2 linked regions of the Homo sapiens genome follow. The protein of the gene in region 1 interacts with the protein of each later gene in a pairwise test. Each region holds a gene or a part of one and is shown in the gene's direction. Other genes may lie near its edges.

Region 1 (3,748 bases):
TGCGGAGCTGCCATGCCTGAAGTGCAGATGGCTGAACCACAAGTCTTTAGGTTTCCGGAGTTGTTATTGTGGTGACCTAGAGTGTCAGAGCCAGGAGAGCAAGAAAGAGGAGCCAAACTGAGCCCTGAGTTTTCGACCACCCGGGCTCCCACAGCCTGGAACAGACTTCACCTAGCACGCTCAGTGCCAGCCTTCGGCAGGACGCTATCAACGCCCGACTGGTTTCCTGCTCTCATCCTGGCGCCTGGGCCCAGTTGCCATAGTGTGGATCCCATGACTCCTCAGGGAACCCCTGGACTCAGGCACGCGAGAAGAAGACAGCGCTTTGTGGAGAGAATTGACCAGGGACAGTTATGCTCGAGCACACAGGACTTGGGCCTGTATGCGTCCAGCATGGGCCCCAGGATGTCCCTTCTAAGCGAGGGTCGAGGGGTGCTCGCCCAGACGGGATCCCCGGGTCTCTGCTTTGTTAGCAGCTTTGGTGGCTGGTTCAGGAGGTCAGAGAAATAAAACGACTTGTGAACACAATGGAAATGACAGGCGCTCTGGCCAGGCGCGGGGAAGGCAGCCGCCTCGGGAAGCCGACCTCAGCCCTTTCCTCTCTCTCCCTCCCTCCGTCTCCCCCAGAGCCCCGGAGCTCCGAGGTGCACTTGAAGTTCATCTCCACTGCCAGGAGAACGCAGCGCAAACTGTCAAAGGGCTCCCAATCCTTAGGGCGTCCTCCCTGTCTGCAATAGCTTTTTGTAGAAAGGAAATCATCAGAACGATTCTGACTTTCTCCTCCTTTCTTTATTAGAAAAAGAGAAACCGCCTCCTAATACGCCTCAGAGAGAACCAATCTCGCGCTTCCGGGTCACCCGCTACCGCGAAGATTCTCTGGGGGCGAGGGGGGGCATTGGTTTGAAGCCCCTTAAAACGAGGGCCCTGCAGGCGATGCCTTCTTTCCTACTCGGATTTGTAAAGCCGAGATTGCTTAGTTGGAAACCCTGTTCTCCCCTCCCAGGCGCACACAGATCCCCCTTACACGCAAGCAGCGGGCGCTTCCACGCCTCCGCGGGCCAAGGTCACCAAATGCCCTGATTCCATCCCCCACCCGCCATCAATCCTGCCGACTCTGGCCGCTCTGCCTCATTCTCTTCCAAGAAGTTTCCATTCGTTTTATTTTTTTTTCCCCAGCCCGAGGTCCTCAGTAGACTCCAGCGTGGATTTTAATTGCCTCAATCAGCAGTCATTCTCCCCAGCCGTCACTCAGAGCCTGGACGGTGGGTCCCGCGATCTAGCCCTTGGCTACGCAGGAACGGTGCGCCCCCGGGTACGGCGCGGTTCAGCAGGCAGGCGTCAGGTTCTACCAAGGCGCTGAAATGAGCCCATCAGCGGGTAGGAGCCCTTCCCCCGCCGTCCCCTCCCCAGGCTCGTGAACGGCGCCTGATGCCCGCCCGGGGCGCGAGCTCTCGAGGTCGCAGTGACCTCAGCACCTGCTTGGAGGAAAACGGCGCGGGAACCCCGCTTCCTTCCCCTCAGCTGGAGCCAGACCTCAAACAAAACCCCAATCGATGCACACAGAAAACTCCTCTGGGCCACGCTTCCCGCCTCGCCGAGGTCTCCCCAGTCTGCCCCTCGCTGACGCTGGCGCGCAGCGGCTGTGGCAGCACCCGGGACAGCGGCCGCCCGCACTTCCCGCCTCTGGCTCGCCCGAGGACGCGCTGGCACGCCTCCCACCCCCTCACTCTGACTCCAGCTGGCGTGCATGGTCTGCCTCGCATCCTCACGACTCAGCTCCCTCCCTCTCTCGTGTTTTTTTCCTCCGCCGCCCCCTCATTCATCCCCACTGGGCTCCCTTTCCCTCAAATGCTCTGGGGCTCTCCGCGCTTTCCTGAGTCCGGGCTCCGAGGACCCTTAGGTAGTCCCGGTCTCTTTTAAAGCTCCCCGGCTTCCAAAGGGTTGCCACGTCCCTAAACCCTGTCTCCAGCTCGCATACACACACGCACAGACACGCACGTTTTCTGTTCCTGCGTGACACCCGCCCTCGCCGCTCGGCCCCGCCGGTCCCCGCGCGGTGCCCTCCTCCCGCCACACGGGCACGCACGCGCGCGCAGGGCCAAGCCCGAGGCAGCTCGCCCGCAGCTCGCACTCGCAGGCGACCTGCTCCAGTCTCCAAAGCCGATGGCATCTCCGGGCTCTGGCTTTTGGTCTTTCGGGTCGGAAGATGGCTCTGGGGATTCCGAGAATCCCGGCACAGGTAGGAAGGAGAACGGGGGCCTGCGGCGGGCGAGTTTTGCGGTGGTCTGGGGTTTGCGGAACTACGGAGAAGACGAAGGAGGTTTTTCCACCTGCAACAGGAAACTTCTTCGGGCGCTTCTCCCTGCTTTTGGGCTAAGTCCTTGACGGCCCAAGAGCTCAAGACCTCTACAGCCTCTTGTACCCTGGGAAGACGCCCAAATAGTCTCAGGCCCGTTCCACAGAAGGTTGGAAGAGCCCCCCAAAGACCGCGGTGTCTCGGGGACATGGAATTCCGTGGTCCTGGGGCGCTGCTAAGATCCGGGTGTCTGGACCCTGGGGTGGGACGGAGTGACCGTGAAGATAGAAAAAAAAAATGGGAAAGGTGAGAGATTTCTTTATCTAGAAAGACAGTCTGCGAAAAAATGGATAGCTTCAGTGTTTAGGAAAACTCGTCCAAGGTAGGCAGGGAGAGGAATTTGCCTGAGCCGATTGGCACCTGGAAGGGCAGCGGTGTGGGCTTCTCCTCGGGAAACAGATAAAGGAAATGAGGGCTGGCCCGGGCCGCCAGCCTCCCGCTTGCCTTCTGCACCTGCCGGCCTCACCGAGTCCTGAGCGGCCCCCAGGAGGAAGGCGGCCCCTCCTAGGACCCCGGACTGATTGATTTTCACATAGAACGAAATTTCACACGTCCGTCTGTTGTTCTCTTTCTGCCTCGCTGTCTGCCTGCCTATTCTTCCTTGCAGCGCGAGCCTGGTGCCAAGTGGCTCAGAAGTTCACGGGCGGCATCGGAAACAAACTGTGCGGTGAGTGCCCAGGGACCGGGGCGGCCAAGGTCGGCCCGCGGGGTCCAAGCAGTCTTCTCACCTCCGCATCCCAGTCAGCGGAGTCGGGGTTTCCTGGCTGCGGGTAGGCGGGAGCGAGGGAGCCGGGCCCGGCGGAGGATTGACGAGGCCCGCGTTCGGTGTCCTTACCCAGCCCTGCTCTACGGAGACGCCGAGAAGCCGGCGGAGAGCGGCGGGAGCCAACCCCCGCGGGCCGCCGCCCGGAAGGCCGCCTGCGCCTGCGACCAGAAGCCCTGCAGCTGCTCCAAAGTGGATGTCAACTACGCGTTTCTCCATGCAACAGGTAAAGACTCAGCGGGGAGCCCCGGGGCGCCCCTGCCCCTCTCTCTGCCCCGCCCACCGCGGCCGGTGCGGGTCCGGCGCTGAGAGCCGGACAGGGGCGTCGAGGTGGCAGCGGAGGCGGGACCTGCCAGAATCTTCAGATAAAAGCGAGAAATGCGGGACCTGCCCGCTGGGTCCAAGCCCCCGAACCTGGCCTCGGAGCTCCAAGAGGGCTCTGAGGCCGTGGCGCTCTTCCCCCAGCGCGGCCCTTGGGATGGCGGGTGGCCGACGATCCAGGCGCTCGTGCGCTCACTGAATCGATGACGGCTGGCTTCCCTAGGCCGCTGGGGCCTCGGGTGGGACTCAGTTTCCAAATACCGTGCCCGAGAATTCAGAATTGCATTTTTTTTAGGTCTTTAGATCAC
Region 2 (3,748 bases), on another chromosome or scaffold:
AGTATCTACCTCCTGGGGTGGTTGTGAGAATTGGATGAGTTAATGTATATAAAAATTTCTGCCACATAAAACATGCTCAGTAAATATTCAATACCCTTATTATTATTAGAGATGGGAGGAACTTTCCATTTCCAGAAATTATAACTTCTAGTACTCATTTCGGATAAGGGTTGCAGCATACACCCTTGCTCTCAAATAGCTGCAAAATAATTTACCATTTTGTCAGATACTGATTATTGGTGCAGTAATCAATACTGCACTGACTTACTATTCTTTATTATAGTAAGAAAAAATCCTCATACTTTTATTAACTTCAAAAATCAGTAATAAGTATTCAGTTTATCCAGTACATTTTGGCACTTTACCAAGATCATAATTTTAAAAATTTGCCCTATCAATATTGTATTTGTATTATATAAAAGACAGCTTCCTGACATGATTGGGATTTAGGATTTTGAGTCAGTTGGTTTAGGAAACATGAGTCTTCCAGCTGGCAACGTGGCAAATTTTTCAATCTTCCTAAGCCTTAGTTTCCTCATCTATGAAGTAGTGGTAATGTCTATTTTTGTAGAGTGAGAGGATTAAAGCACATGGAAAATACCCAATGTTTGTTTCCATCTTTGTAATAATCAATTTCCTCAACATCCTGGGCTAACTTCTTGATATTACCATATATATATACCTCCATATTCATAAATGAGATGAACCCAAGAGTTTCTGTCTTCCTGTGCCCTGTATTGGCTTGTAGAATAATAATTATGTGTTCCTTAAAAGTTTGAAACTCCTCATTTGTCAAACCATTTGGACAGGTATTGAGGAGGTAAGTCTGATAATGCTTCTAATTTATTTATTTATTTATTTCTCTTTCTTTCTCTCTTTCTCTCTCTCTCTTTCTCTCTCTTTCTTTCTTTCTTTTCTTTCTTTTCTTTTTAATAGAGATGGGGTCTTGCCTTGTTGCCCAGGCTGATCTCCAACTCCTGGGCTCAAGCTATTCAACTGCCTCAGCCTCCCAAAGTGCTAGGATTACAAGTGTGAGCCACTGGGCTCAGCCAATGCTTTTAATTTCTAAATAATAATAGCTTGCATTCATTGGATGCTTAGTACTATGTGCCAAAAGTTCTAATAACTATTTCACATAGCTCATCTAATTTCATCCTCAGAAGTAGTTATCATTTATATTTGTCTTATCTAGTCCCGAAATTAGTTACTGTTCCCATCTTACATATTAAAAGACTGAGGCTTTGAGAGGTTAAATAGCCAGGCCAAGCTCATGCAGAGAATGAGCTGGGATTTGAACCCAAGCAGTCTGACTCCAGGTTCTTTGTCTTTAGTGGCTAGATACCATGCTCCTTCCTAAACTTATTTCTTGTTATTTTGGTTTGGTTTTGGTCTAAGCTTTCCGTGCCATATGGAATCAATTTTGTTAATTTATACTTTTCTAGGAAACTATCCATTTTACTGAGATTTCATCAAAAAAAATTTTGTAGTCTAACTTTTTTTAAAACCTCTTCTTTTTTTTGGTACCCCATTTTTGTTGAAAAATGTTAATCCCTTCTGTTTCTGAGATTAATAGTCCCTATATTATTAATTTGGTTTATTTGTGTTTCCTCCTTTTCTTGATTATTGGAAACTGCATATTAAACTGGGAGAGAAAGTCTAGCAATGTGGAGGAGGCTGAATGTTACAAAATGGAAATAAAGATTTTTTTATTTTTAAATTTTCCATTTCCATCCAGCTTTGCTTTCTTTTCGCCTTACTTCACCCCAGCCTTTAAAGAGCAGGATGCTCAGGGCTGAAAAGAGCCTTAGGAGTACTTTGCCAAGCTCCCTAATTCACCAGGGCCTAGAGGGGACATCTCCCTGTCCAAAGTCACACCGTTAGCAAGTGACAGAGCCAGGAGAAGGCAGGCCCTAGCTCCCTTCTTTCCCCTTCTTTTGTTCTCCCTTCTTTTTGTTCTCTTTCCATTATACCTTAGCTAATGTTAAAAACAACAAATTAATGGAGACAGCAAAGAAAGTTTACAGCTACTTCATTTGAAAAGATTAATAAAGTCAGTTGACAATGTTGATTATAATTACTTTGATCCATATGATTTTTCTTTTTTTTTTTTTCCTTTTCAGACAGAGTCTTGCTCTGTCACACAGGCTGGAGTACAGTGGCGTGATCTCAGCTCACTGCAACCTCCGCTTCCTGGGTTCAAGCAATTCTCTGCCTCAACCTCTCGAGTAGCTAGGATTACAGGTGCCTGCCACCATGCCCGGCTAATTTTTGTATTTTTAGTAGAGACGGGGTTTCACCATCTTGGCCAGGCTGGTCTTGAACTCCCGACCTCATGATCCACCCACCTCGGCCTCCCAAAGTGCTGGGATTACAGGTGTGGGCTACTGCGCCTAGCCTAATCCATATGATTTTTCATAGAAATCATCTTCTATTGTGATCTTGTTTTAAACCGTTCTTTCTAGAATAAACCTATCCAAAGAAAGCATGGTGTATGGCAGGAAAGTGGGCATCTTTTTATTCTCCCCCTGATATTACGCTGTACCTATTGGAAAGGCCATGAGAAAGCTCCTGTATCAGTGGAGGAGGGAAACTTAATAAAATGGAATCCAGCCTTAACTCAAGTCTGAAGCAAACAAAATAAATGCTCTTAGCACTGGGACGAAGTAGGGTTTTTTTTGGTCGGGGGAGGAGGGACAGGGTTTTACTCTGTCACCCAGGCTCTTCTCAAACTCCTGGTCTCAAGTGATTCTTCCACCTCGCTCTCCCAAAGTGCTGAGATTACAAGCATGAGCCACCGTGCCCAGCCTAAAGTTTGGTTTTGAGGTGCCTGGCAGGGCACTACATTAGTGTGGGGGCTGGATGTCAAAATTCAGCACAGTGGAAGAGGACAGAACCGTCCCTACCTCGAGGATGGAACGAGGCACACCAAACCCTCACACAGTCCATGCGCTTTTTCACAACATAATTACCTTAAATTGCCCATTTCCTGGTTATTTGGTGTGTGTGTGTGTGTGTGTGTGTGTGTGTCACGTGCACGCGCAAATGAGCAGATGTCTCTGCTGATTGTCTGATCAGCAGTCTGCAATTAGACCCCAAGGAACAACCTGCTCATTGTGGTTAGGGGCCATTAGCCACTTAAATAATGACATCTGTCATAATTTTCATACCTTGGATCTTATCTCCAAACTGTACTCAAAACAAATGCCTAAGTTTTCTAAAATAGACCAATCCAATTTTTAATAGTTCTAGTCACCATCGTGGTGGAGGATTTTAGGGTTGAATAATACCTAATAATTACTGAGTGCCTCGTATATGCCTGGAATTGTATAAAGGTCTTTACAAACAGCATAAATCACTGAGCTCATGCAAGAACTCTGTGAAGTAGGAAACTATTATTCTTCTCACTTTATAGATACTGAAATTATTAAACTGAGACACTGAATTCAATAATTAACATCTAGAAGGGAACTGAACTGAAATTAGTATTTAAGAATGTTGGACGTCCGTATTATTTACTGTTTTCATTTGGATGAGCTGCTGTGTGTCATTTGGCTAGTAAGGGAGACAGGGTCTTACTCTGTCACCGGGCTCTTCTCAAACTCCCGGCCTCGGTGATCCTTCCACCTCGCTATCCCAAAGTGTACGCTCTGAGTATATGCTCAGAATATATTAAAATGTGGAAGATGGTGTAGGCAATCTAGTTTTGTATAAAGGGCCAAAATAAGGCATTAATCTTAAAATAATGGAA

What was found. The genes of interacting proteins can lie anywhere in the genome.
Region 2: the proteins of GAD2 (region 1) and RHEX interact in binary tests that used the Homo sapiens proteins (3 or more experiments, as listed by UniProt).

What each region holds. Positions count from the first base shown.
Region 1 is NC_000010.11:26,214,647-26,218,394, forward strand, and holds the start of GAD2 (glutamate decarboxylase 2), read left to right. Parts: upstream 1-2,127; 5' UTR 2,128-2,163; coding exon 2,164-2,239; intron 2,240-2,963; coding exon 2,964-3,023; intron 3,024-3,195; coding exon 3,196-3,345; intron 3,346-3,748. UniProt on the Homo sapiens protein: Catalyzes the production of GABA.
Region 2 is NC_000001.11:206,091,173-206,094,920, forward strand, and holds part of RHEX (regulator of hemoglobinization and erythroid cell expansion protein), read left to right. Parts: intron 1-3,748. UniProt on the Homo sapiens protein: Acts as a signaling transduction factor of the EPO-EPOR signaling pathway promoting erythroid cell differentiation.